Homo sapiens: one gene and its partners. The protein of the gene in region 4 purifies or fractionates together with the protein of the main gene of each other region. This does not show direct contact. Each region holds a gene or a part of one and is shown on either strand. Other genes may lie near its edges.

Evidence for each region.
Region 1: the proteins of USP1 (region 4) and SHPRH purify together in Homo sapiens (affinity purification with western blotting; one study listed by BioGRID). This does not show direct contact.
Region 2: the proteins of USP1 (region 4) and NFAT5 purify together in Homo sapiens (affinity purification with western blotting; one study listed by BioGRID). This does not show direct contact.
Region 3: the proteins of USP1 (region 4) and WDR20 purify together in Homo sapiens (affinity purification with mass spectrometry, with the first as the bait; one large-scale study listed by BioGRID). This does not show direct contact.
Region 5: the proteins of USP1 (region 4) and STAT2 purify together in Homo sapiens (affinity purification with mass spectrometry; 2 studies listed by BioGRID and IntAct, with this or other methods). This does not show direct contact.
Region 6: the proteins of USP1 (region 4) and SLC18A1 purify together in Homo sapiens (co-immunoprecipitation; one large-scale study listed by IntAct). This does not show direct contact.
Region 7: the proteins of USP1 (region 4) and UNC45A fractionate together in Homo sapiens (co-fractionation; one large-scale study listed by BioGRID). This does not show direct contact.

Annotation. Positions count from the first base shown.
Region 1 is NC_000006.12:145,922,859-145,926,358, forward strand, and holds part of SHPRH (E3 ubiquitin-protein ligase SHPRH), read right to left. Parts: intron 3,439-3,500; coding exon 3,346-3,438; intron 1,989-3,345; coding exon 1,881-1,988; intron 928-1,880; coding exon 785-927; intron 1-784. UniProt on the Homo sapiens protein: E3 ubiquitin-protein ligase involved in DNA repair.
Region 2 is NC_000016.10:69,687,966-69,691,465, reverse strand, and holds part of NFAT5 (nuclear factor of activated T-cells 5), read right to left. Parts: intron 527-3,500; coding exon 378-526; intron 1-377. UniProt on the Homo sapiens protein: Transcription factor involved, among others, in the transcriptional regulation of osmoprotective and inflammatory genes. Binds the DNA consensus sequence 5'-[ACT][AG]TGGAAA[CAT]A[TA][ATC][CA][ATG][GT][GAC][CG][CT]-3'.
Region 3 is NC_000014.9:102,195,397-102,198,896, reverse strand, and holds part of WDR20 (WD repeat-containing protein 20), read right to left. Parts: exon of another isoform or gene 3,024-3,500; coding exon of another isoform or gene 2,993-3,023; intron 1,143-2,992; coding exon of another isoform or gene 1,050-1,142; intron 1-1,049. UniProt on the Homo sapiens protein: Regulator of deubiquitinating complexes. Activates deubiquitinating activity of complexes containing USP12. Anchors at the base of the ubiquitin-contacting loop of USP12 and remotely modulates the catalytic center of the enzyme.
Region 4 is NC_000001.11:62,440,049-62,443,548, reverse strand, and holds part of USP1 (ubiquitin carboxyl-terminal hydrolase 1), read right to left. Parts: intron 2,062-3,500; coding exon 1,941-2,061; intron 1,355-1,940; coding exon 1,250-1,354; intron 391-1,249; coding exon 230-390; intron 1-229. UniProt on the Homo sapiens protein: Negative regulator of DNA damage repair which specifically deubiquitinates monoubiquitinated FANCD2. Also involved in PCNA-mediated translesion synthesis (TLS) by deubiquitinating monoubiquitinated PCNA.
Region 5 is NC_000012.12:56,346,608-56,350,107, reverse strand, and holds part of STAT2 (signal transducer and activator of transcription 2), read left to right. Parts: coding exon 1-11; intron 12-471; coding exon 472-519; intron 520-598; coding exon 599-682; coding exon of another isoform or gene 683-736; exon of another isoform or gene 737-763; intron 764-846; coding exon 847-945; intron 946-1,024; coding exon of another isoform or gene 1,025-1,048; coding exon 1,049-1,184; intron 1,185-1,256; coding exon of another isoform or gene 1,257-1,303; coding exon 1,304-1,356; intron 1,357-1,484; coding exon 1,485-1,579; intron 1,580-2,905; coding exon of another isoform or gene 2,906-2,936; exon of another isoform or gene 2,937-3,123; intron 3,124-3,152; coding exon 3,153-3,289; intron 3,290-3,483; coding exon 3,484-3,500. UniProt on the Homo sapiens protein: Signal transducer and activator of transcription that mediates signaling by type I interferons (IFN-alpha and IFN-beta).
Region 6 is NC_000008.11:20,162,637-20,166,136, forward strand, and holds part of SLC18A1 (chromaffin granule amine transporter), read right to left. Parts: intron 2,472-3,500; coding exon 2,411-2,471; intron 2,329-2,410; coding exon 2,233-2,328; intron 1-2,232.
Region 7 is NC_000015.10:90,945,285-90,948,784, forward strand, and holds part of UNC45A (protein unc-45 homolog A), read left to right. Parts: intron 1-1,329; coding exon 1,330-1,630; intron 1,631-2,511; coding exon 2,512-2,606; intron 2,607-2,857; coding exon 2,858-2,999; intron 3,000-3,369; coding exon 3,370-3,500.

The DNA of each region.
Region 1 (3,500 bases), on a different chromosome or scaffold from region 4:
ACACAATACAAAGAAAAGAATAATAGGTCAATTTCCTCAAATTCAGAGAATGGTTGCCAAACAAAGTGTTAAAGAAACTGTTTGCTGTTTTTTTTTTTTTTAACAGCAACATTTGAGTGAGTTTTCCTTCAGAATGTATTCAAAGTATAATATTGGGCTGTCTACCGTAAAAGATACCAAAAAAATTTGATAGTCCTGTGCTCAGGAACTGAAAAAGAGCATGAAAAATGTATGTCTGTCTCAGATATCTTTGAAAGTGTACGACTGCCACATTCTTCCGTTTTAAGCCTGACTACAGATAGCCTTCCTGACATCCTTGCTCTATATGAGGAGGTGCCTGCAGGATGAAACATAAAAGCAGAATATTGGGAAGAAAGAAGAAAAATGGCTAAGAGTTATATTCCTTGGTTGAATATATATATATATGTATATATACTTAATTAAATCTGTAATTATGCACTATATACGAGGCACTTTGCCAAGCACTTTTCCTGTATAATTTCAATAGTTACTAATGTGCTCACATTATGAAGTGTAAAATATTAAAGTAACTAAAGTAACAAAGGTAGGTCGCAGTTAGGAGTTAAACCCAATTATAGTACCTATAACCATTTTGATAAACTGTGAATAAAAAAGGCTGCAAAAAAGAAGTATGAATGTGTCTGTATAGGTTTATGAATGGAGAAAAAAAGCCGGTAATAATGAGAAATTAGAAACTAGAAAATACAAGGATTTCTTTGCTTTTAAAATTATGAGTAGATACTTTTTCTTCCTGTTTTCTTACTTCTCTGACATAGAAAGCTTGCCAGTTTGTTGCTTGTAGTTGCTGGTTATTTCATTTCGCACTCGCTGAACTAGCTCCTCATCAATAGTAAATTCTATTGCTCTGTGGATCACATTTAGCCACCAAGGAGAATTAGAATGAATCTGTAAAAAAGGTAGCAGTTAATCAATTAATACATTTTTTTTAGTACTCACTAAGCTTCCATCACTGGGCAGGGTGATGCCAAAATTCAAAGAAAGTAATAAATGCTATTCTCAAAGGGACTATCACAGAGGGGAGACGAGTATACATATTCCATGTACAATGCTCGCTTCCTCTTTTGAAAATATAATTAAAGAGAAACCCCTATTTCCTAACTACTCTGGATAAATGGGAATTTATTGAATGCATTTATATAACAAAGCTGTAACTAAAAAAACTGTTTACGCCAAATGAAAATTCAATACTCAATCTATATGTGTGAAAAGGTCACAGGTCTCTTTATCAGCATAAGAAAGAAAGCCTTCATTCTAATCTTTAACTAACTGAACCAGATTCTACTTAATGAATAATCCACAATAACTCACAAAATTATATCCCAGAATACTAAATAATGAATGAATTAGAAAGACAAAAATTTGCAACACCTGATTTAAAAACTGAAAATAAAAGTGTATTTGTGTAACCTCTTTAGATTTTGCTGCTGATTTCATAAAACTGAAATTTTAGAAATGACAAGTGGTATATATTCTGCAGGAAAAATACCTGTGGTTCTAATGTATTAACATTTTAAAACATCTCAGAAACAAGATAAAAAGGAGGTTATAGAAGTCTTTACTTTCTTCAAAAGACAACTGTTATATACTCATGGTAAGAGAAAACCCATGAGTTCAAAAGAAAGAGAACTCAAAATAGTTGACTTATTTATGCATCTGTTCACTCAACCAATAAATCATTGCTAACAGTAAAATAAACTTGTATTGTGGGTCAGGCAATGTGCTAGGTGCTAAGGATTTCAAAATGTATAAGAAATTCAAGTTTCTCCCCACCAAAAAACCAAAACTCAAAATGATATCTGGAGGCAAATACAAGTAAGAAACACTGCATTTTGGCATACCTTTCTTTGAAGCTCATGGATGGTCTGCTGCACAGGATATAAAGCTTGCTGGGCTTCAGCAACTTCTGTATTACACTTGCTCATGTAGTGCTCTCGCAGCTGTTTGGCCTGTGTTGAAACAGAGAATATAAACTTTCACTCCCAATCTAGAATATAATTCAGTATGATGTTTCAAGAAGAATGGGTCATTTTATACATTTAAAGCTACTTAACTGCATTTAAACATAAAAGTCCAAGTATACTGTAGAGAACATAAAAGTCACGCTAAAAATTCCTTATATATGGAAGTTAACAAAATTTACTTGTCCAAGTAACAAAATTTCAGAAACACCGAATATTTGTTTGCCAATTTCTTATTTAATTTTTTTTTTTAGTTAGAATAAGCAAAGAGGGGAAAAAAAGAACAGTAATATTTCAAATGATAGGCAAAGCAAAGACACCTTTCTAAAATTTGGCTAATTTAGTTATTAAAATTCCTTAGTTACTGCAGTTTAAAAATAATCCTTGAGAATACACAGTAACACAGGTGTTAGGAACTGAATTTTGTTTCCCCAAAATTCATATGCTGAAGCCCTAAGAAAGTAGATTTTAAATGTTCTCACTACACACACACACACACACACACACACACATGCATGCAATAAAAATAAAGAGGTAATTGATTTAGTTTGATTTAGCTATTCTAGTGTCTACATACATCAAAACATCAGTCTCTACTCATGAATAGATAAAATTTTTGTTAATTAAAATAGTTTACCAGGGCACCTCCGCCCCCAAAACAACCAGTGCAAAAAGGCTGTGCTTATTTATATAATCTCATTTTTTATCCTGTTGACTCAAATAAAGCCTCCACTTACAGGTTCAATACATTTCAAACATACCTACTCTTTTGATTTTAGCTCTTTAATGTTTAACAACAGCAAAAATCCCTGGAAGAATCTGCATAATAAGCTATTAACAATTTATAGTAAAATAATTTATAATATCACTCTTTTCGATGTCATTCTTTTCAAAAAGAGGCGACACTTTTTGTAGAGGAAACTTCTTTGGGAGAACTACCACCAAAAATTTGACTTTATTTACCCCCTTAAAAAATACACAGAAATGTGGAGAAAGTGCAAAAGTTTGTATATTTACTAAGCTACCTCTTTTGTAGATCTGCCATGAGATCAAAGTTTCTTTTTTAAAACTCATTTATTTACATCCCATTCTGTTGGCTACCAACAGCCATATCTACAACAAGCATTTATCACATAACTGCAGGTAGATCAGCAGAGAAGCCAAATAATACGTACTGCTGCCATTCTCTGCTACCCAAAATCACAACAAAATTCGAAACATCAAAGTAACAGGAAAACATGATTACATTTATTTGTATGTTGTATGTCCTAGGATATATCAACTATATGGAGCATAAAGTTTGAAGAAAATATACTTTTATAGACAGAATGAAAAAAATAATTACCTCTTCCTCAAGTCGGCCATCACGCAAGGTAGGTGGTATCCCTGGGTGCCTGGCTATCAACAATTCCATCAAGTTATGGGTAGCATGAAGTCTCTACAAACATATCAAAGGCAGTAATTATGACAGTCAATGCAGAAGACTCTGAAGAGAACCTA
Region 2 (3,500 bases), on a different chromosome or scaffold from region 4:
CAGTAATTTTATGGTTCATGAAGAGCAGGTATCAAAATATCTCAATTTTGTGGCTCCTCAGTAACATTACAGGGGATAAGACAAGTAAAAAAAAGAAACAGAAAGTTATGGGAAAAGACTGGGAAAAAAATAAAAACATCTCTAATTCTGAAAATGCTAAAATTAGTACTTTCATCAATATCTCATACAACATATTAATTCCTCCCTTGTATATTGGAAGTCACTATGTGGGCAATTTTGCTGAAGTATAAAGCATTCCCTCTTTACAGCAAAATTCATTAAGTGCATCCAAAGTAAAAATAATGTTAAAAAAATAGGAAAAGTAAAAGACAGCAATTTTTATATAGGAGGTTTGTGCACTAGTCAATACAGCTTACCTTAAAAATAGTGGAAGATCTTTTTTCTGCTGTTACTTCCATTGGAGTAACATCTTCACTCTTAATCATACTGCTTGGTATGAGTGGAGTCATCAGGGCATTAGGGATAATATTTACCTTATCTAAATTACATCCAGTAGTTTTCATTGCTGCATATACACACACACAAAAAGAAAAGTTTAAAATCACAAAATTTACCAACTATTTCATTCTAAAATTTGTTATTAGCCATGATTTAAATGTCTATTTTTTTGATGCTACAATGGTAGCATGAGATACAAACCTGGTATATTAAGATATATCTTCCCTTTTATGAAGTGCATTGGCTGGGGGACCTCTGGAATGGGCCTGGAACTATAGCTTAAATATTAATAATAAGCTTAAGCAGTTCAATTACCAAGCTATATTCCCCAAGACGGTTCCAAGTGCCTTGAATCATACTACCCAACCTGACCAAGAGTATATTATAGGATACAGCTTAAAAATCTCCAGGAGGATAAAGCTACTCAATTACAAACTACACTCTCCTCTTAGCATTTAGCTATCTGACAATATAGTCTCAGAACTTCTTAAGGACTATGAGATTGTCAGAGCACTTCTTTCTTAAACTAAGTTCAAGCTTCTCATTAGAAAATACCACCCAGTGATTAATAAATTTTGCTTTTCTAAATTAAAAGAAAACTAAATTAATTAGAAAACTTGAATATGACAAGTTGACACATGGACACAATTCTCTTTTAGACTGGACTTTAAACATCTTTTTTTTTTTCCCCAGAAATAAGGGCTATTTTAGGTTTACAAACCAAATTTCCCAAGCAAAATGAAAAATTATTTCCCACCTCCTACTACCTCCATTTTCAGGAGTAGTTAGTTCTAGATTTATACCTAGAGGCAACATATAGCAAGATTCTACCACTTCACTATATCTACCTTTCCCCCTTGATTGCTTTTCTTTCTTCTTTTTTGTCTACTTGAGTCCGCAGTGGCACTCAGTGGTACCTACTGCTATTGCTAATGACAGTCTTCTGAGTTGAGCACATAGCCAAATCCTGATTTAAAAGTTTACTACCACTTGGAAGCTCTATGGAAACAGTCTTCAGAAAGCATAGCTGTTAAATTTCTTAATTTGATATCGAGAAGAAATCTTGGCTATAAAGAAGCTTTTAAAATGGCACATGGTCTATAAGTTGGATCGCTCCCTTCATAAATTTTTGTTGTTGTTGTCAGTCAATATGCTGCTGAAAGGCCAAGTGTGGTGGCTCATGCCTGCAATCCCAGCACTTTGGGAGGCCGAGGCAGGTGGCTCACTTGAGGCCAGCAGTTCGAGACCAGCCTGGCCAACATGGTGAAACTCTGTCTCTACTAAAAATACAAAAATTAGCAGGGCATGGTGGCACATGCCTGTAAATCCCAGCTACTTGGGAGGCTGAGGCACAAGAATTGCTTGAATCCAGGAGGAGGTGGTTGCAATGAGCTGAGATCGCTCTACTGTACTGCAGGCTGGGCAACGGAGCAAGACTGTCTCAAAATCTGCTGAAAGTAAATATTTTCATCTAAAAATATTTGCAATTTTCTTGTCTTACTTCAACTTGCCTCACAGCCATTTGGCTAAAAACCTAATTCCTATGAAAACTGATTATTTTGACAGAGGGGAAAGTGCTCATTTAACTTTTGACATTCCATGTTTTATTATTCTACCTAAGTAGTTTGAGAAATGAATCATTTATTCATGAGTTCTTTGGACCTATTTTCACCTAAATTCTAATACCAATACAATTCCCCTAACAACCAGATTTTTATTTTATTTTATCTTATTTGAGACAGGGTCTCTCTCTGTTGGTGGGAGTGCAGTGGTACAATCAGGCCTCACTGCAACCTCCACCTCCTGGGCTCAGGCAATCCTCCCACCTCAGCCCCATAAGTAGCTGGGACTACAGGCACACACCACCATGCCTGACTAATTTTTAAAATTTTTTTGTAGAGACAAGAGTCTCGTTACTTTGCCTAGGCTGGTCTTGAACTCCTGAGCTCAAGTGATCCTCCCTACTAGGCTGCCCAAAGTGCTGGGATTATAGGCGTGAGCCACCACACTCGGCCTACAACCTAATTTTGACTGAGACAAAACTTCAGATCATGCACAGGGCAGGCATTTAAAAGTAATCTAAGAATATCCCATAGAACATTTTGAAAAACCATTAGTGTTATCTTAAGTTGATCCTGTAATAGTCAACTACTATTCTTGCTTTTGAATTCCATTAGATCATGAGCTCTGTGAAGGCAGATGTTGTTATCACCTGTTGCACAGTAGGTAATCAACAAATGTTTGCTGAATGAATGAAGAAAATAATCTTACTTTAGCTTTATCACTGTCAATTTAGTTTGTTGTGGATTGTTTGGTTAATCCTATAAAAATAAAAATATGGGCCAGGCGCATTGGCTCATGCCTGTAATCCCAGCAATTTGGGAGGCAGAGGTGGGTGGACCACGAGGTCAGGAGTTCGCCAGCCTGACCAACATGGTGAAACCCCGTCTCTACTAAAAATACAAAAAAAGTAAAAATAAAAAAAAGCCAGGTGTGGTAGAGGGCACCTGTTACCTCAGCCTCTGGAACCCAGGAGGCAGAGGTCAGAGGTTGCAGTAAGCCGAGACCACGCCACTGCATTCCAGCCTGGGCAACAAAGCAAGACTCCATCTCAAATAATAATAATAATAAATAAAAATAAAAATATACAGTCTGTATTTTTCTTTTTAAAAATATTCATTCATTCATTCATTCATTTACTCACTCATTCATTCAATTAGAGACAGGGTCTCACTCTGTTACCCAGGCTGGAGTGAGTACCTGCAGCCTCAAACTCCTGGTTTTTTTTTTTTTTTTTTTTTTTTGAGACGGAGTCTCGCTCTGTCGCCCAGGCGGGACTGCGGACTGCAGTGGCGCAATCTCGGCTCACTGCAAGCTCCGCTTCCCGGGTTCACGCCATTCTCCTGCCTCAGCCTCCCGAGTAGCTGGGACTACAGGCGCCCGCCACCGCGCCCGGCTAATTTTTTTTGTATTTTTAGTAGAGACGGGGTTTCACCTTGTTAGCCAGGATGGTCTCGATCTCCTGACCTCATGATCCACCC
Region 3 (3,500 bases), on a different chromosome or scaffold from region 4:
AGCAAGTACAGACCAGAACCTCTGATCTTCCCCTCCATTCCCTGACAACTGCTCCTTTCCCAGTCTCACCCAACACAGCAAGAGACACCCAGAAACCTGATTTATTAATACACCTTTCCAATTCAGTCTCCAAAAAGCAGCCAGGGTACCTTTCAAAAACACCAATCTGCCTGCCTTGTGCACCTGCTCCCTTCTAAGGAATCCCGTACTTCAGGCTAAGAAACAAATCTGGATCAGGCCGTAGGTGATGTGGCCCTCCAATCTCATGCCCTTACTTCATGCCACCTTCCCCAGGTAAACCGTCCTTCTTTCAGTTTCCTTGGGCTCAAGGGCCCTCATGTGCTATTCCTTTTGCAGGAAAGCTCCATCTCCAGTTCCTTACCTGGTTGGCCTTCTTCTCACATGAGGCACAGCTTAAAACATAGCACTTCGTCCGAGAGATGTCCTCTGCCTCCCAGTTTAAAGTAGACCTCTGTGTTGGCCAGGCGTGGTGGCTCACGCCTGTAATTCCAGCACTTTGGGAAGCTGAGGTGGGTGGATCACTTGAAGCCAGGAGTTCCAGACTAGCCTGGCCAACATGGTGAAATCCCGTCTCTACTAAAAATACAAAAATTAGTCAGGTGGCCTATAATCCCAGGTACTTGGGTGGGTGAGGCACAAGAATAGCTTGAACCTGGGAGGTGAAGGTTGCAGTGAGCCAAGATTGCGCCACTGCACTCCAGCCTGGGTGACAGAGTAAGACTCTGTCTCATAAATAAATAAATAAATAAATAAATAAATAAATAAATAAATAAATAAAGTAGACCTCTGTGATTCTCTCCCTTTCTTGGGCCTGCTCTCTTGCCTCTTACATCACAAAGTGTCACCATCTGTGGTCACCAGTGTTTCGGGGGTGGTGCTATTATACCTCTCTTCCCTCCTGAGAGGGGTCACAGGAGGGCAGGTTTTGCCCACTGCTGCAGACCCAGTGCTGGGCATGTGGTAGGTAGTCAAGGTCCTGAATGAATGAAACAATGGCCGCAACTCTAGTTCAAGCCCTCAGCTCTCACCTGGACAGTTACTAGAGCCTCCTCACTGGTCTTGCTACCTTCATTCTGTCTTTCTTCATTCCAATCCACCTTCCACAAGTGCTGACAAGAGTTCTAAAAAAACACATTTGATCCTGTCACTCCCTTCATTAAAAGGCCAAAGGTTCCCCCACATCTTCCAGTGTCAGTTCCAAATTGCTTCACGTGACATGAAAAGGCTTTTATAAGACAAGCTGGTTCCAATTTATCTTTCCAGCTTCGAACTCTGACACTCCAAGTCCCACACTGTGATGTGGCCAAGCTGTTACTGGATGTTCTTTCACATGCCTAGTTGTTCCTCCAGCTTTGAAGGCCTTCCTTACCCTCCTCTAATGACTATGTACCCTTTAAGACCCACATCAAACATCACTTTCTAAAAGCATTTCTTGGAACTCCCCCAGTGAACTTAACATTTTAAAAAACTTTAAAATGCATACTAAAGAATTCCTGCGGCAGCTAGCCCTTGGTATTTTGTTCATATCGCTGTGCTGACACGTGCCCAGTACTCTCTGTCCATTCTTACTAAACTGTGAGCTCCCGGAAGGGCAAGAGCTCATCTGGCAACCATGCATGGTGGGTCCTGTAACCAATGAGTTTCTGGAATTAATTTCTGGTTCCAACTCTATCATCAACTTGCTACCTGATCTGGACAATTCACTTATGTGCTCTTTGACTATTTCCTCATCTGTAAAATGGGAACAACTCCCCACCCTCCCTGTAGAGGCCATAGGTAAAAGTGCCTTGAAACCTGTAAATGTCACACCACAGCAAAGCACGACACGATGACTACTTCACCACCATTCCTGGCACTCTCTAAGGAACAAACCTCCGGTGACCCTTGCTCTTAGACATTCTGACCAAAATCTGATAAAAATGTATCCACATGGCCAGAGGATCTCCTTACTATGAAGGGCAATCGATTTCAGCCTCAAGCTGTAAATGCAAAGCTGGCATTAAACCACACACAGTCTTAGCATTCTAAATAGCAATTTCTCAAATAAAATGTAAAGTGAGTATGAGATAACTCATGCTTAAATCATGAAGAATGAGGAGCTGCCTTCCAGCCTGCAACTCCCAGTCACCAGGGCAGGGATAGTTCTGGCCAATGCAGCCTGAGTGCTCCCAGAGCCCTGAGATTCTGGGGACGTGTGGTCTCCAACTCCCTGCCCTCCCCCTGCCACGACACACAAAACTTTCTTGTTCTCTAAGCGGCATTCTGTACCATCCTCGGCCAGGGCTGCCTCCGGGTCTTGTTTACTAACAGCCCTTACATGGCTCCAATCCCTGCCCCCTCCAATCACACTCTCCCCTACCTAAACAATAAAAACCCACAATGATTCCAAATTCACAATTTCTGCTAACAGTGCAGAGGAGGCCAATTTTGTGCGCTGCTCCCCAAACTCAGCACCAAAAAAATAATCATCCAGCTACTTAGAAATCACTTCTGCAGATGATACTAAAAAAACATCTAGGTAAATAAAATATTTTCTGCTTAACTTTTTTTTAATGGAAAATGGGATTAAATACTTTTCCTCTACAATCTGTCAGTCCAGATGGCAAGTTTTGTTTCCAGTCAACTCAGAGGAAACTAGAAGAGATGGCATGGTTCATAAGATCTTATCAAATCCACTGGCAATGTCAAACAGGAGCACCCTGGGTGGATACTGATTTGCATGAATAGCAAGTACCATAACTGCAAAAGAATCCAAATTTTAACTGCCATTTGTCAATTTGAATTTTCTTCCCCAAACAAAATTATTTCTTAAAAACCATACTCTATAATGTGTTTTTGTTCCAAGTTAATGATGTTAAAACCATGCAACAATGCAAAAGGGAGGGGGTCCCACATAGCCTGACCCTTGCGCCTCAGGGGCAAGGTCCCAAGTAGAGATTGGAACCCAGGGCTTCTAACTCAGCAAGCCTACCTTATCTTTTCCACTTGGTAGAAAAGTCATACTGAAACAGACGAGGAAGAATATTAAATATGAAATAGCAATACTTGAGGCTGAAAGATGCTCCAACAGCTTTAAAAAATATAATCTACTTGGCAATTTCTATATGCCACATTTAACAGTCCTGACATGTTCCTGAACAGACAGCTCAGATATCTCAGGCTCTTTCCAGAATGAAATTGAAGATACTAGAAACCCCAGTACATACTACAACACTGGCAAAAGCTATGTCATGTGACCAAACTTTAAGCGCCAGGATTTCCAACTATGTCAAAGATGAGTTTACAGTAACTATTTTCAAGAGCAAGTGAAGTACTCCTTAGCCAAATGACTGTCAAACATACATACAAAAGCTTTGGCTACAATTTAAGCAGCCTAAGGAAATGTCATCAAGTTCTTTGATCTGCATGAAATGTTCTGGTGATGTGAACCAACTTTGGAATTCCACATTTTCTTACTTAAATTATAAATACCGAGTTAC
Region 4 (3,500 bases):
ATATGAATGACTATAAAAAGCCTCATATAATATGTTCAGATCTAACGAATTTAGCACCAAATTTATGAAAAAAATTTCCAGTATTCAGAGTCTCTGGGATATAAAGGACTGTGGACCTAGAGTTTCTACTTTCCTTGCCCTTTATTCCTGTTTCTTCGCATGTCATTCTCCTCCAAGGATATAAACAAGTAGCTAAATTGAAACCCTAAAATTATATTATAGGCTATACCTCAGTGTGTTAAGCAGTCGCCTTGGCTGAGTGGCAAGTTCATCAGTATATTTCTCTGGATTTAAGAGAAAACTAGCCTGGAGCTGTTCAACCGAAATGATTAAGGACTGTAAACTGCATATCAATTCATAACTTGCCAAAGAATCTTCTTTGCAATTTCCCTGTCAAGAAAGAAACACACAAACCAATAATTTTATGAACAAATTAAGTACCTTCCCCCTTTGTCTTTGTCTCACTTAAGAATACTAGATTTTCTAAGTTGCATAATAGCACTAATTTTAAGGGATGTACAAATAAGCCTTATTTTTTATTTTTTTATTTTGAGACAGGGTCTCTGTCGCCCAGGCTGGAGTGCAGTGGCTTGATCGCGGCTCACTGGAGCCTCAACCTCCTGGGCTCAAGCAATCCTCCACCTCAGCCTCCCAATTAGCTGGAACTACAGGCTCACACCATGACGCCCTACTAGTTTTTGTATTTTTAGTAAAGACAGGGTCTTGCCATGTTACCCAGGCTGGTCTCAAACTCTTGCGCTCAAGCAATCCACCACCCACCTTGACCTCCCAAACTGCTGGGATTACAGGCATGAGCCACCACGTCTGGTCTTTTTTGTAATTTTAAGAGGAATTATGAATTACTATTTATGTGAATTACAATGGTTTTTTAATTATGGAAGTTAAAGATTTCTTTAAATACACTGTATTTAAATTTTAACTCAATTTGAAAACACAATGGGTAAATAAGTTGTACATGGGTATAACATATTGTGATTATAGTATACAGTAATATATAGTATACAAGTAACAAAAGTTTGATACACAGATTACAGGAGCAAACATTGTAAAAGGGAATTATCTAGTTAGCCACCTTGAAAGAATGAAAAATAATTGCCTGACAATAGCTCGCTAACAGAGAAATAATCTTTGTCATCCACCCCCCCAGTCCTCTTCATTTCCAGGCAAGTAAATTTCCATTAATTTACTTTTGCTTTTTACATTATTTTCTGTTCTTTATTTTTCTTACCTTGTCTTTTTGATTGGCTTCATCCTTTAGAGCTTCTTTCTTCCTTGAAATAATATTAAATAAGTGCTTTACTCCAGATTTAAAACCGGGACAAAAATATAATACCTATAAAAAGTGAGATTGTCTTAAGTGTTTACTGAACAAACAATACACGTAAAATCATTAAAACAACATCATGCTTTCTATAGAGCACTTTTAACATGTATTACCCTAAAATTCTGAGATTAAGTTTTGTGTCAAAATTTGTTCTCCACTTCATCAGTAGTAGCCCAGTGTCTTCCCTCATTAGCACAAAGCACTGCACCTGGGCAGATATTGCTAAGACTTTAAGGTTACAAGGACACACAACACAGCGCCAACGGACACACAACACAATGCCAACGTTACTTCCAAGGGATAAGACATATATCACACTGTAGCACCAGGAATCAGAGAAAGAAATTAAAGGTTTGACCTTCCACTTAAGGTCTACTCAATTTTGCTATCCCACCTTTATTTAGTCTATCATTTTCTCTTACCCCAAAGGAAGTTTAATAACATGTAACTTATTATTTTAGCCTATTCTGGTTTATTAACAATCAAAGGCAAAGACAGTATGGACATTAAAGTCCTCCAATAACTCAAAAACATTAAATGCTACATCAATCTTTGCCTACTAAAGCTTTATGATATAGCAAAATTGTCAATTTACCTGAAGTATACTATTAAGATAGCAAGTATTGCCGAGATTATTCAGTCCCACAAATGGTAACAAGTTTTCTCTCTTCTCACAGTTTATAGGTGAAGACTGTGCTGCAGGAACAACTTGATCACTATGAAATATAGAAGGGAGAACGATAAGTAGTTATCTTAAAGAAACAAGGTGAAAATATTACTTCTGTAGATTTAGTCTTTTCCCAAAAGTTGTATAATCTGAAAAGTATGTGAATCTTGTTCAGATGACATTTTAAGAAATACAGGCTCAAAAATTGCTATATGCCCAGAATAAAAGTTTTAAAAGCATTTAAAAACATTATTACACATAACAAGCCACAGAACAATTCCCTTAAAAGGATGTTAATCCTATTTTACAGAGTAGAAAATTGAGGAACTGAGAGACTATGATTTGTTTCATCTACTTTGACATTTTAATCAAATAGTTTAACTGAACAGAAACCTGGGAATAAACTAACCATGACAATATTTGGGAGAGGCTGCACTAAGTAAGATTCTATTAATAAGAATTCAGAGGAAAGAAAGTCTGTGAAGAGAATTATATATGACTTCCTGCTGGTAAAAAAAAAAAAAATATGTAGCTATCCCTCACTTAAAAATAAAATGTTCAGAATGTGGGTGTGGGGGCATTGACATGTAATTCCAGCTACTTGGGAGGACTGCTCGAGCCCAGGAATTCAAGACCAGCCTGGGCAACACAAGGAGACCCCATCTCAAAACACAAATGCTTTAAGTTTACTATTCTTTTACTTCTTTAACAACAACAACAAAAAAACCACTAGGTCCTTCCAATATTTTCATTTATTTTACGATTGCTAGCTATTATTACTCTAGCACCTCAAAGTATTCAGAAGTATGAATGCTGATAAACAAAAGCTTCACTCTCACAAATCTCCTCAACTGGTTATTGATAGCTATTAGGAAATTAACACATGGGACCAAATCCACCTTAGTCACCCAGCAGAGTGCCTATATGTTAAACAGGGAGTAGTACAGACTCCAGCTAGAGCTGCTGGTGGTGGAATAAAGTATTCCACTTTGTTCTGATTTATTTTCTGTAGCTAAATAATTTATTTGCATCAAAAGCATTACTTAAAGTTTATTTTTATAATTTGCAATCATATGCCTCCAACAGGTATGACTAGTTACATGACTAGAGTTTAAAATGTCTTATAACTGTCAAGTCTTCTGAACCAAACAAATATATATATATATATATATAAAACCTTTTACCCCTACACAGATGTTTTGCACTACAAATAATCAAATTTAAACTCAGAAAGACAATTTTAGTCAACAAATATTTCTCCAAGTTAGTCTAAATGGCTGAGCACAGTGTTAACATGAGTTAAACATTATCGATGTGATTCCTACGGGGAACCACCAGTTTTGCTGTTCCTACTATAAACTGCTAGATTTGACTAAGAAGTACACTGAAGCGTACTTTTTTGTGCCGCTACAGACTATCAAGTCAGACTGGAGTTGTCAACCAAGTTCACTGCTGCTTTACTGTAGAATTTTTAAAGTACAGAAATGT
Region 5 (3,500 bases), on a different chromosome or scaffold from region 4:
TTGGTTACCTGGTAAGAATAGTTTGTGACCTATGCTTTTATTACTATTTTTATTTTTTTGAGACGGAGTCTCACTCTGTCCCCCAGGCTGGAGTGCAGTGGTGCCATCTTGGCTCACAGCAACCTCCGCCTCCCGGGTTCAAGCAATTCTTCTGTCTCAGCCTCCTGAGTAGCTGAGACTATAGGCACACACCACCATGCCCGGCTAATTTTTGTATTTTTAGTAGAGATAGGGTTTCACCATATTGGTCGGGCTGGTCTCGAACTCCTGACCTCAGGTGATCCACCCGCCTCAGCCTCCCAAAGTGCTGGGATCACAGGCATGAGCCACCATAGCTGGCCTGCTTTTAGTCCAAAGGAACAGGGGTTGGGGGAAGTTCCCAGGGCTTGAGAGGTCTTGAAGCCAAACAGGGGTTCCAGGGACACTAGGGTGCCCACTCTGGCATTTTCTCTCCTTCCCTTCAATTCACAGACTCTGGTGGAGCAACGTTCAGGTGGTTCAGGAAAGGGCAGCAATAAGGTGAGATCTGGACAGAGGACTCGAGGCAGGGGGAGCTTGCCAAAGAGCCTTCTGATGACTATGTCTTTGGCTGTCCCAGGGGCCACTAGGTGTGACAGAGGAACTGCACATCATCAGCTTCACGGTCAAATATACCTACCAGGGTCTGAAGCAGGAGCTGAAAGTGAGTGAAAATGGAGGGCAAGGAGAGAGAAAGCAGCTTTGGAAGAAGGCATAAGAAGGGGATAAACAGAAGCCTCTTGGGGTGGGTTAGCACTCCTTTCCTCTAACAAATACCTGCAGCTAGAAACATCACATCCCTCTCTGTGACTCCTGTCTTCTCCCCAGACGGACACCCTCCCTGTGGTGATTATTTCCAACATGAACCAGCTCTCAATTGCCTGGGCTTCAGTTCTCTGGTTCAATTTGCTCAGCCCAAACCTTCAGGTAGGGGAGTGGGGCCGACAGGTCAAGGCGCGAGAGGAGGGGTGTGGAAGCTTGGTGTGATAGGTTGCTTCTGAGCCAGCCTACACTGCTCCCACCCCTGCAGAACCAGCAGTTCTTCTCCAACCCCCCCAAGGCCCCCTGGAGCTTGCTGGGCCCTGCTCTCAGTTGGCAGTTCTCCTCCTATGTTGGCCGAGGCCTCAACTCAGACCAGCTGAGCATGCTGAGAAACAAGCTGTTCGGTACAGATTTCCTTTTCTCTCAGCCTTTCCCCAGCCTTAGTCTTTTCTGTCCCTCTGTCCTATCTATCCCAGGACCCCTGGCTTCCCTCATCATCTGTCTGTGGCTATCTGTCCCACAGGGCAGAACTGTAGGACTGAGGATCCATTATTGTCCTGGGCTGACTTCACTAAGGTAACTCCCTGAATCCTGTGGAGCTGCTGGATCTAGCCCACATTCCAAATACTGGCCTTCCCACGTCCCTCCTTCCCTACACCAGAGGCAACTCCTCAGCTTTTGCTACCTTTCCATTCCTCCTCCAGCGAGAGAGCCCTCCTGGCAAGTTACCATTCTGGACATGGCTGGACAAAATTCTGGAGTTGGTACATGACCACCTGAAGGATCTCTGGAATGATGGGTAAGGCCTTGGTCACCCTTCCCTCATGGGCTTGTGCTTTCCGGGCTTGAGAGTGGAGTCTCTGCACCCTCACGTGGCAAGCAGGGAGAGAGAGCAAAGACAGGTGCAGGCCACGTCTCCTCACATTTGTTAACAATAATAAGGCCGGGTGTGGTGGCTCACACCTGTAATCCCAGCACTTTGGGAGGCCGAGGCGGGCGGATCATGAGGTCAGGAGATCGAGACCATCCTGGCTAACACGGTGAAACCCCGTCTCTACTAAAAATACAAAAAATTAGCCGGGCGTGGTGGCAGACACCTGTAGTCCCAGCTACTCAGGAGGCTGAGGCAGGAAAATGGCGTGAACCTGGGAGATGGAGCTTGCAGTGAGCCGAGATTGCGTCACTGCCCTCCAGCCTGGGTGACGAGCAAGACTCCGTCTCAAAAAAAAAAAAAAAAAAACAACCAATAATAGCCATAAACAGTGTTTGTGAAGCATCTCCTACATTCCAGAGCTTGATGGGTGCTCTTCATTAATTCTCTCATCTCATCCTTACAACCATGCTGAGTGGTGGGTTTTGCCAGCTTCATTTCATGTGAGGAAACTGAGTTTCAGAGAAGTTAAAGAACTTACCCAAGGGACACAGTTGATATTCAAATCCAGGCCTATGTGACTCCAAGCCCATGCTCTTTCCACCACACTGCCTACCAACTTGTGTAGCATTTGGCTTTTAAAAGTGCTATTCATGACCAGGCACGATGGCTCACGCCTGTAATCCCAGCATTTTGGGAGGCCGAGGTGGGTGGATCACCTGAGGTCAGGAGTTTGAGACCAGCCTGGCCAACATGGCGAAACCCCATCTCTATTAAAAATACAAAAATTAGCCGGGTGTGGTGGTGGGCGCCTGTAATCCCAGCTACTCAGGAGGCTGAGGCAGGAGAATCGCTTGAACCCAGGAGAGAAGGTTACAGTGAGCCAAGATCGTGCCATTGCACTCCAGCCTGGGTGACAGAGCAAGACTCTGTCTCAAAACAAAACCAAAAAAAAGTGCTATTTGTGGCCAGGCGTGGTTGCTCATGCCTGTAATCCTAGCATTTTGGGAGGCTGAGGAGTACAGATCACTTGAGCCCAGGAGTTCAAAACTACCCTGGGCCACGTGGTGAAACCCCGTCTCTACGAAAAATACAAAAGTTAGCCAGGCATGGTGGTGTGCACCTGTGGTCCCAGCTACTCTGGAGGCTGAGAGGTGGGAAGATTGCTTGAGCCCGGGAGGTCGAGGTGGCAGTGAGCTGTGATCATGCCACTATTCTCCAGCCTGGGTGACAGAATGACACCCTGTCTCCCAGAAAAAAAAAAAAGTGCTGTTCATCTGTGTGATCTCACTGAATCTTCGTACTTCAAACCCTCGGAAGGTGGCTATTGTCAGCAAAGTGAAGTGACTTGTAAAAGATAAAAAAAAGCTAAGTGGCAGGGCTTGGTCCAAAGCCTGGATTCCAAACCTGGGCTGTTTCTCCATACAAGGGGAGCAGGGAGGCAGGGGCCTGGTGGGGCAGGGTGTTGGGCGGTGTCTCACAGCTGCTCTCTGTGCTCCAGACGCATCATGGGCTTTGTGAGTCGGAGCCAGGAGCGCCGGCTGCTGAAGAAGACCATGTCTGGCACCTTTCTACTGCGCTTCAGTGAATCGTCAGAAGGGGGCATTACCTGCTCCTGGGTGGAGCACCAGGATGATGGTCAGCTGCTCTGCCCTGCCATTCCCACAGCCTCTCCTTTCTGCCTGGCTCCCCTCTTGCCCCTCTGCCTGCCCTTGGCTTCCCTGGCTCTGAACTGAATCCCTCAGCTGGTTTGGGACTGGGCAGCCAGAGCAGAGAGCTCCAAGGCCCGGCCTCTTCCCTCAAGCCCGCCTGTTCCTGCATTCACTCTCCAGACAAGGTGCTCATCTAC
Region 6 (3,500 bases), on a different chromosome or scaffold from region 4:
TTTGTAACTGTATAACAAGGATGGCCTTTACTCTAGTGTCCAATACCTTGTTCCTCATTTCTATCTGAGACCTCGTCAGAATGACCTTCACTGTCCATATTTCTATCAACATTCTGGTCACAACCTCTTAACCAATGTCTAAAAAGATTCAGACTTTCTCTATAGCTCTCCTCTTCTTCTGAGCCCTCACCAGAATCACCCTTAATGCCTTAACCACAGCAATACAGGCTCTTTCTAGCCTGCTCCTCCAAATTATTGCAGCCTCTACCAATTTTCCAGTTCCAAAGCTGCTTCCATATTTTCAAGTATTTGTTATAGCAGCAGCCCGGTTTCTCATTACCCATTTTCTGTCTTAGTCCATTTTCTGCTGCTATAATATAACAGAATACCAGAGTGCATGATTTATCAATGAAAGAGATTTATTTGGCTCAGGGTTCTGGAGGTTAAGAAGTTCAAAGGCAAGCCTCTAGTGTCTGTTTGGCCACCTGGGGAGTGCCTGGTTGCTGGATCATAACATGGCCAAAGGGGGTCACATGGAGAGAGAGCACACATGAGAGAGATGTAAAGGGAGCTGAACTCCCCTTTTATTATGACAAACTCACTCCCATGATAATGGCCTTAATCCATTCATGAGGGTGCTCCCATGATCTCATCATCTCTCAAAGGTCCCACTTCTCAAGACTGTTGCACTGGGGATTCAATTTGCAACATATAAATTTTGGGGGACACATTCACACCATATCAGAGGTCAAAGAGGTTAAATAACTTATCCGAGGTCACAATCAGTAAGTGACGTGGTCAGCATTCAAACCCAGGTGGACCTGGGCTATTTCCTCCCCTTGGTGATGCTACCTAGTATATGGTGGGCCACATAGCAAGCACTCAGAGGCAGACTACACATTACTTTCAAAAGCATGGACTCCTTTGGCTCCCAACACCTTTGAGGGATGCTCTTCATGTACAGCAGCGATTTTCTAGGTGTGATCACTGACCAGCTATATTAGCATCACCTGCAGACTTACTAGGGATGAAAACTTGTTTTGACTAAATTGCCTACTGTCTCCCAGCAATCAGAGTTTTAACAAGCTCTCTAGGTGATTCTGATGTAGTTGTTGGACAACCTTTGATGTCAGACTTTACAGACCAGATAGCATTGAGAAAGCTGTAAAAGATGGTGGCAACTGAGTGACTGGTAACTGAGTAATTGGTAACTGGCAACTGAGAATGGTCCCTAGGCTGCTGGGGAGGAGCTGCTCTGTGTTGTAGCTGCTCACTAGTATCGAGACCCTGAGTGGTCAGAGCCTTAGGGCAGGCGATGAATTATCTGCACTGAATACCGACTAACTCAATTAATCGTCATGGTCAAAAGCACTTGCAACCCATAAAAATTCAATTTGGCACTAGGAGTGCAGCTGGGAGTCTTGCTTAGAATTGCCCCCCCAAAATTAGATTTAGTGCTTTTTATTGCATGCTGAACTATATCATGTTCTTATCAGCTTCCCCTCTGGCCCCGTAAGCCTCTCCTCCCTGCAGTGATGGAGCAATTTGCACGTAGCCTTCCCTGTCCTCTTTCCTCAGGGTTCCTGGGAAGGGCTAGATCCTCCTCTCCAAGCTCCTCTCTAAGTCGCTGCATGAACAAAGGAAGCTGGAACCCTCTCTCCTGGGCCCATAGCTTTTCCTAAGTGAGTGCTACATACACCCCTTTTTAGAGGTAAAAAAGATAACCAAAGGGTAGTCTTGAGGATGAGGAGCTGAAGGGAGGAGAATGTGGATGGTAATGGTGCACATTAATATTGTACAGGGTACAAAGCATTTTCACCTCATATGTCATTTATTCATCCAATTTCTCTTGAACTAGATAGTATTTTGATGCTCATTTTAGCAATGAGAAAAGTGATGCTCAGAGGGTTTAAGGCATCTGCACAAGTTTTCACAGAAAATCAAAGGAGCTGAAACCAAAACCTGAATCTTTGGACTGGAAATCATTAATCATCCTACTACACAGCTAGGTATGTGACCTCTCCATAGCCCCTTTCATCCTCTCTCACCCTCCCCTTTCTCAGACTGCTTCTCTGAGGGACCACACACCCTCTTGGGCTTGATTCATGGGTGTGGACGTGGGAGGTCATTCTACAAAGGAAGCATGTTGTCCCTGTGTGACATTGAACGAAAGGACTCATGGCACCCACCTCCTCCTGCCAGGCCCTGAGCGGGGGTGCTGAGGTCACTTACCCAGCTGCCACTTGGGGGAGCACATGGTCTGCATCATCCAGATGGGCAGTGTGGGCTCCAGGATGGCCACCCCCATGTTGGCAAAGCAGATGGACCCTGGGGAGACTGTTCTGTGAGCAGCCGTGGCTGCTTGAAGCCCAGACACTCCCCGCCCAATGGGAGGTCATCGCCAGCTTACCTGCAGCCACCAGGATGTAAGGGTCTTTGAGAAGCATAAAGAGGGGAGTCCCCTTGGCACTCTGAGAACATGGATAACAAAAAATGTCCATTTGTACAGTGCATACATCTCTCCTATTTTCACAGAATCTGAGAAAGTACAATTATGGGCTTAGAGACCATCTACAGTATCTCCTTTACTGCAGAGACCAGGAACCCCAGTACAGGGAGAGAAAGTGACTTGTCTGATGCCACAGAGGAAGCTGGAGGCAGGACCCCTCCTGTGTGAAAGGTAGGCACTGTAATAGTCACAGATAGAGAAGCAACATATTCCAGCCATGGTTCCTGCGTTCACGTGACCATCAACAAGGTCAGAGTGGATTGGTAGCAAGGTCAGGGTTGGACAATAGATGTCTGGACTCCTGGTTTCCACTAGATCTCCCTGGTACTAATATTTGTCCTGGGAGAACCACAGGCAGAGCACCGAATCCCAAAAGCAAGCACAGAAGCCATAACTCAGAAAGCCTCTCAAGCTTTCTGAATTCTTCATTCTGATCATTTTGAGCCACACTGAACTAAGGTAGAAGAAGCAGGGTTAAAATACAGCCTAAACATCCAGGACCCACTCTCGTCAGGACACACTCTCATCTAAACTTGGTCGCCCCACCCTCTTTCCAAGCATCCCAGCAGTGCCTCAGCCATCATTATTGCCTTTGCCTAAACTACACGTTCTGAGCTTCTCCATAGTTCCATGTTCTACCCACTCTTTAAAGTCAAGCTTAAATGGCTCCTTCTTTTCTAGAGAGCTCCCTGACTCAGTAGCTGGGGCTTCTCTCTCTTCCAGACATCCTGAACACTATGTCCTAATCCTTCATGGTGTTTACTACTTTCTATCTTGTAATAGATTGGATCATTTTGGTATGATAACCCTCTCTGCACACACACAATAGTGGATTGATAAATTTAGAGATCCTAAAACTAAAGAGATCATTCGCTTACCCAATTATTATTCGAAGTAAAGAAACTGATGTAAATCATTAAAATATACATTTAAAAGTACAATAAACCCTTTGACCCAACAGTCCCACTTCTAGGAATTGACTCTAAAGATT
Region 7 (3,500 bases), on a different chromosome or scaffold from region 4:
AAACGCCATCAAGCACGTACTGGGTTTACCAAACACTTCCTACGCTTCTGTTCCCACACAGATGAAACATGACAGTCCTTTTTTTTTTTTTCTTGAGACAGAGTTTCACTCTTGTTGCTCAGGCTGGAGTGCAATGGCATGATCTCAGGTCACCACAACCTTCGCCTCTAGGGTTCAAGCGATTCTCCTGCTTCAGCCTCCTGAGTAGCTGGGATCACAGGCATGCACCACCACACCCAGCTAATTTTGTATTTTTAGTAGAGACGGGGTTTCTCCATATTGGTCAGGCTGGTCTCGAACTCCCGACCTCAGGTGATCCGCCTGCCTTGGCTTCCCAAAGTGCTGGGATTTTTTTTTTTTTTTTGAGATGGAGTTTCGCTCTTGTTGCCCAGGCTGGAGTACAATGGTATGATCTTGGCTCATTGCAACCTCCACCCTCCCAGGTTCAAGCAATTCTCCTGCCTCAGCTTCCCAAGTAGCTGGGATAATAGGCACCCACCACCACGCCTGGCTAATTTTTGTATTTTTAGTAGAGATGGGGTTTCACCATGTTGGCCAGGCTGGTCTCGAACTCCTGACCTCACACCTGAGGTGATCTGCCCGCCTTGGCCTCCTAAAGTGCTGGGATTACAGGCATGAGGACCGCGTCCAGGCGACAGTCCTTGTTCTTAAAGGAGATTATAGGCCAGGTGTGGTGGCTTACACCTGTAATCCCAGCACTTTGGGAGGTGGAGGCAGGTGGGTGATCACCTTAGGTCAGGAGTTCGAGACCAGCCTGGCCAACATGGTGAAACCCCATCTCTACTAAAAATACAGAAAATTAGCCAGGTGTGGTGGTGGGTGCCTGTAATCCCAGCTACTTGGGAGGCTGAGGCAGGAGAATCGCTTGAATCCAGGAGGTGGAGGTTGCAGTGAGCCGAGATCACGCCATTGCACTCCAGCCTTGGGGACAGAGTGAGACTCTGTCTCAAAAAAAAAAAAAAAAAAGAAAGAAAAAAAATTAAAGGAGCTTACAGCTGTTGGGGAGAAAACTGATGATAAATTATGAAATAAGCCGAATCATTTCAGAGCTTAAGTCCAGGAAGGGACATCACTGGTGGTATGGGAGTAACCTGTATTAGATACTATGTCAGGGAAGGCTTGAGTGAAAGTCGATAAAGAAAATCAGCCATTATTGTCCAGGTGGAAACGTCCTAGTCCTCCCATTGGCAGCTTTCCTGCTGTTTCTGCCCAAGTAGTGCAGGTGCCTGGCCAGTGGAGGGGAAGGGAGGGAAGAAGAGTCCCTTTATGTTGGCCTTGGTGTGACGGCTGTCACCCTGTGCCCCTCAGGAGCTGGTTTGAGGGCCAAGGGCTGGCCGGGAAGCTACGGGCCATCCAGACGGTGTCCTGCCTCCTGCAGGGCCCATGTGACGCTGGCAACCGGGCCTTGGAGCTGAGCGGTGTCATGGAGAGTGTGATTGCTCTGTGTGCCTCTGAGCAGGAGGAGGAGCAGCTGGTGGCCGTGGAGGCTCTGATCCATGCAGCCGGCAAGGCTAAGCGGGCCTCATTCATCACTGCCAATGGTGTCTCGCTGCTGAAGGACCTATATAAGTGCAGCGAGAAGGACAGCATCCGCATCCGGGCGCTAGTGGTGAGACGGTGGGCCTGGGGTGGGTGGGCAGGCAGCCAGGCAGGGGTCCTGGTCCAGCCGGTGTTGCAGGGTGTGGCCCCAGCACACTCCAGATGAAAATAAGGAATACTGTAATGCCAAAAAAATTAGCTAGGCTTGGTGGTGCATGCCTATAGGTCCAGCTACTTGGGAGGCTGAGGCAGGAGGATCACTTGAGCTCAGGAGGTTGAGGCTGTGGTGAGTCACGCATGTCACTGCACTCCTGCCTGGGCAACACAGCAAGACCCTCTCTAAAATAAATGGATGAATGAACGAGATTCTGGGCTTTCTTGTGGTGAGAGACATCGGCATGGCTCCTCCCTCCATGGGGCTTAAGACTGGGCCTGCAGGGGTCATGCAGTGTTCCTGGGAGCTGGTGGTTTGGGGGTTTGGGGACTACCTGGCCCTCCATGAGCCTGTTGTGGCTGTGCACCCTGTGGAAGCTGGTCTTCCTCCCTGGGGCACTCAGTCCTGGATTTCTCCATCCCATAAGGATTTGGCTGTGGCTGAAGCACCTGTCCTCTCCCCACATGCCTCTCAACTCCACCTGCAGAGGGCTTCTTTGTGCGACATGGAAGGAAACAGAGCCATTCTCAGTGTGGCCTGGGAAGGGGTGGGGCCCACGACTGTCCAGCGGCCAGCGCATCAGTGTCTGCAGATGCTGTGTCATGCGGCCACCCCAGTAGCTGATTTTCTTGCCACATGCTCTAGGTGGTGGTCTGGAGGGAGAGGGTGCTGATTTGTCTGTGTAGCTTCCAGGGGGCCATGGCAGAGTGCCAGGGAGGGAGTCCAAGCCAGGTGTGGAGGAGCTCAGCTCCTGCCTCCTTCCCCAGAGGCCAACTGGTCTTGCCCTCTTCCTCCAGGGACTCTGTAAGCTCGGTTCGGCTGGAGGGACTGACTTCAGCATGAAGCAGTTTGCTGAAGGCTCCACTCTCAAACTGGCTAAGCAGTGTCGAAAGTGAGTCATCTGGCCTTGCTGTGGTTCCCCACCTGTGGGGTAGATCTCAAGACACAGGGGTCTGGGTGGGGGTTGGGGCCTCCTCCGTCCTGCTCTCTGGCTCAGGCAGGGGCTGCAGTCTGGATCCTGGTACGTGAACTGCTTCTGTACATTGAGGGGATGCCCAAACCCTTGGTTTTTCCCCCTTGGCCTTGGTGTACCCCTCCGTACCCCCAATCCTGAGGGTCGTCCACTATCCTGCGTGTCCCCAGGTGGCTGTGCAATGACCAGATCGACGCAGGCACTCGGCGCTGGGCAGTGGAGGGCCTGGCTTACCTGACCTTTGATGCCGACGTGAAGGAAGAGTTTGTGGAGGATGCGGCTGCTCTGAAAGCTCTGTTCCAGCTCAGCAGGGTAGCTCTGTGGTTCCTGCCGTCAGCCTGGGGACACTGTCTAGGATTAGACCTTACCAGGCTTTCTCGGCAGGGCTTGGCCAATGGGGTCTTTTGACCCCAGGGAAGAGGGCTGGTGGCTGAGTGGCTGCTCTGTGTAGTGTGGGCATGTTGGCCAGCACCAGTGGTGTTAGCAAGGACGTTCTTCTTGGAGGAGCTGGGGAGGTCAAGTTTGTAAGCTCCCAAAGTCTGGGGCCTGGGAGTTTCCCGAATTCATCCTGTACCCAAGGGTCCCAGCTGAGGGTGGAATTGGGGGCCTGGGCCTGGGCAGCATTTATCTGAGTACTGCTCTGCCCCGGGATGCCCATGTGAATTCCTCTGTGTCCTGGCAGTTGGAGGAGAGGTCAGTGCTCTTTGCGGTGGCCTCAGCGCTGGTGAACTGCACCAACAGCTATGACTACGAGGAGCCCGACCCCAAGATGGTGGAGCTGGCCAAGTATGCCAAGCAGCATGTGCCCGAGCA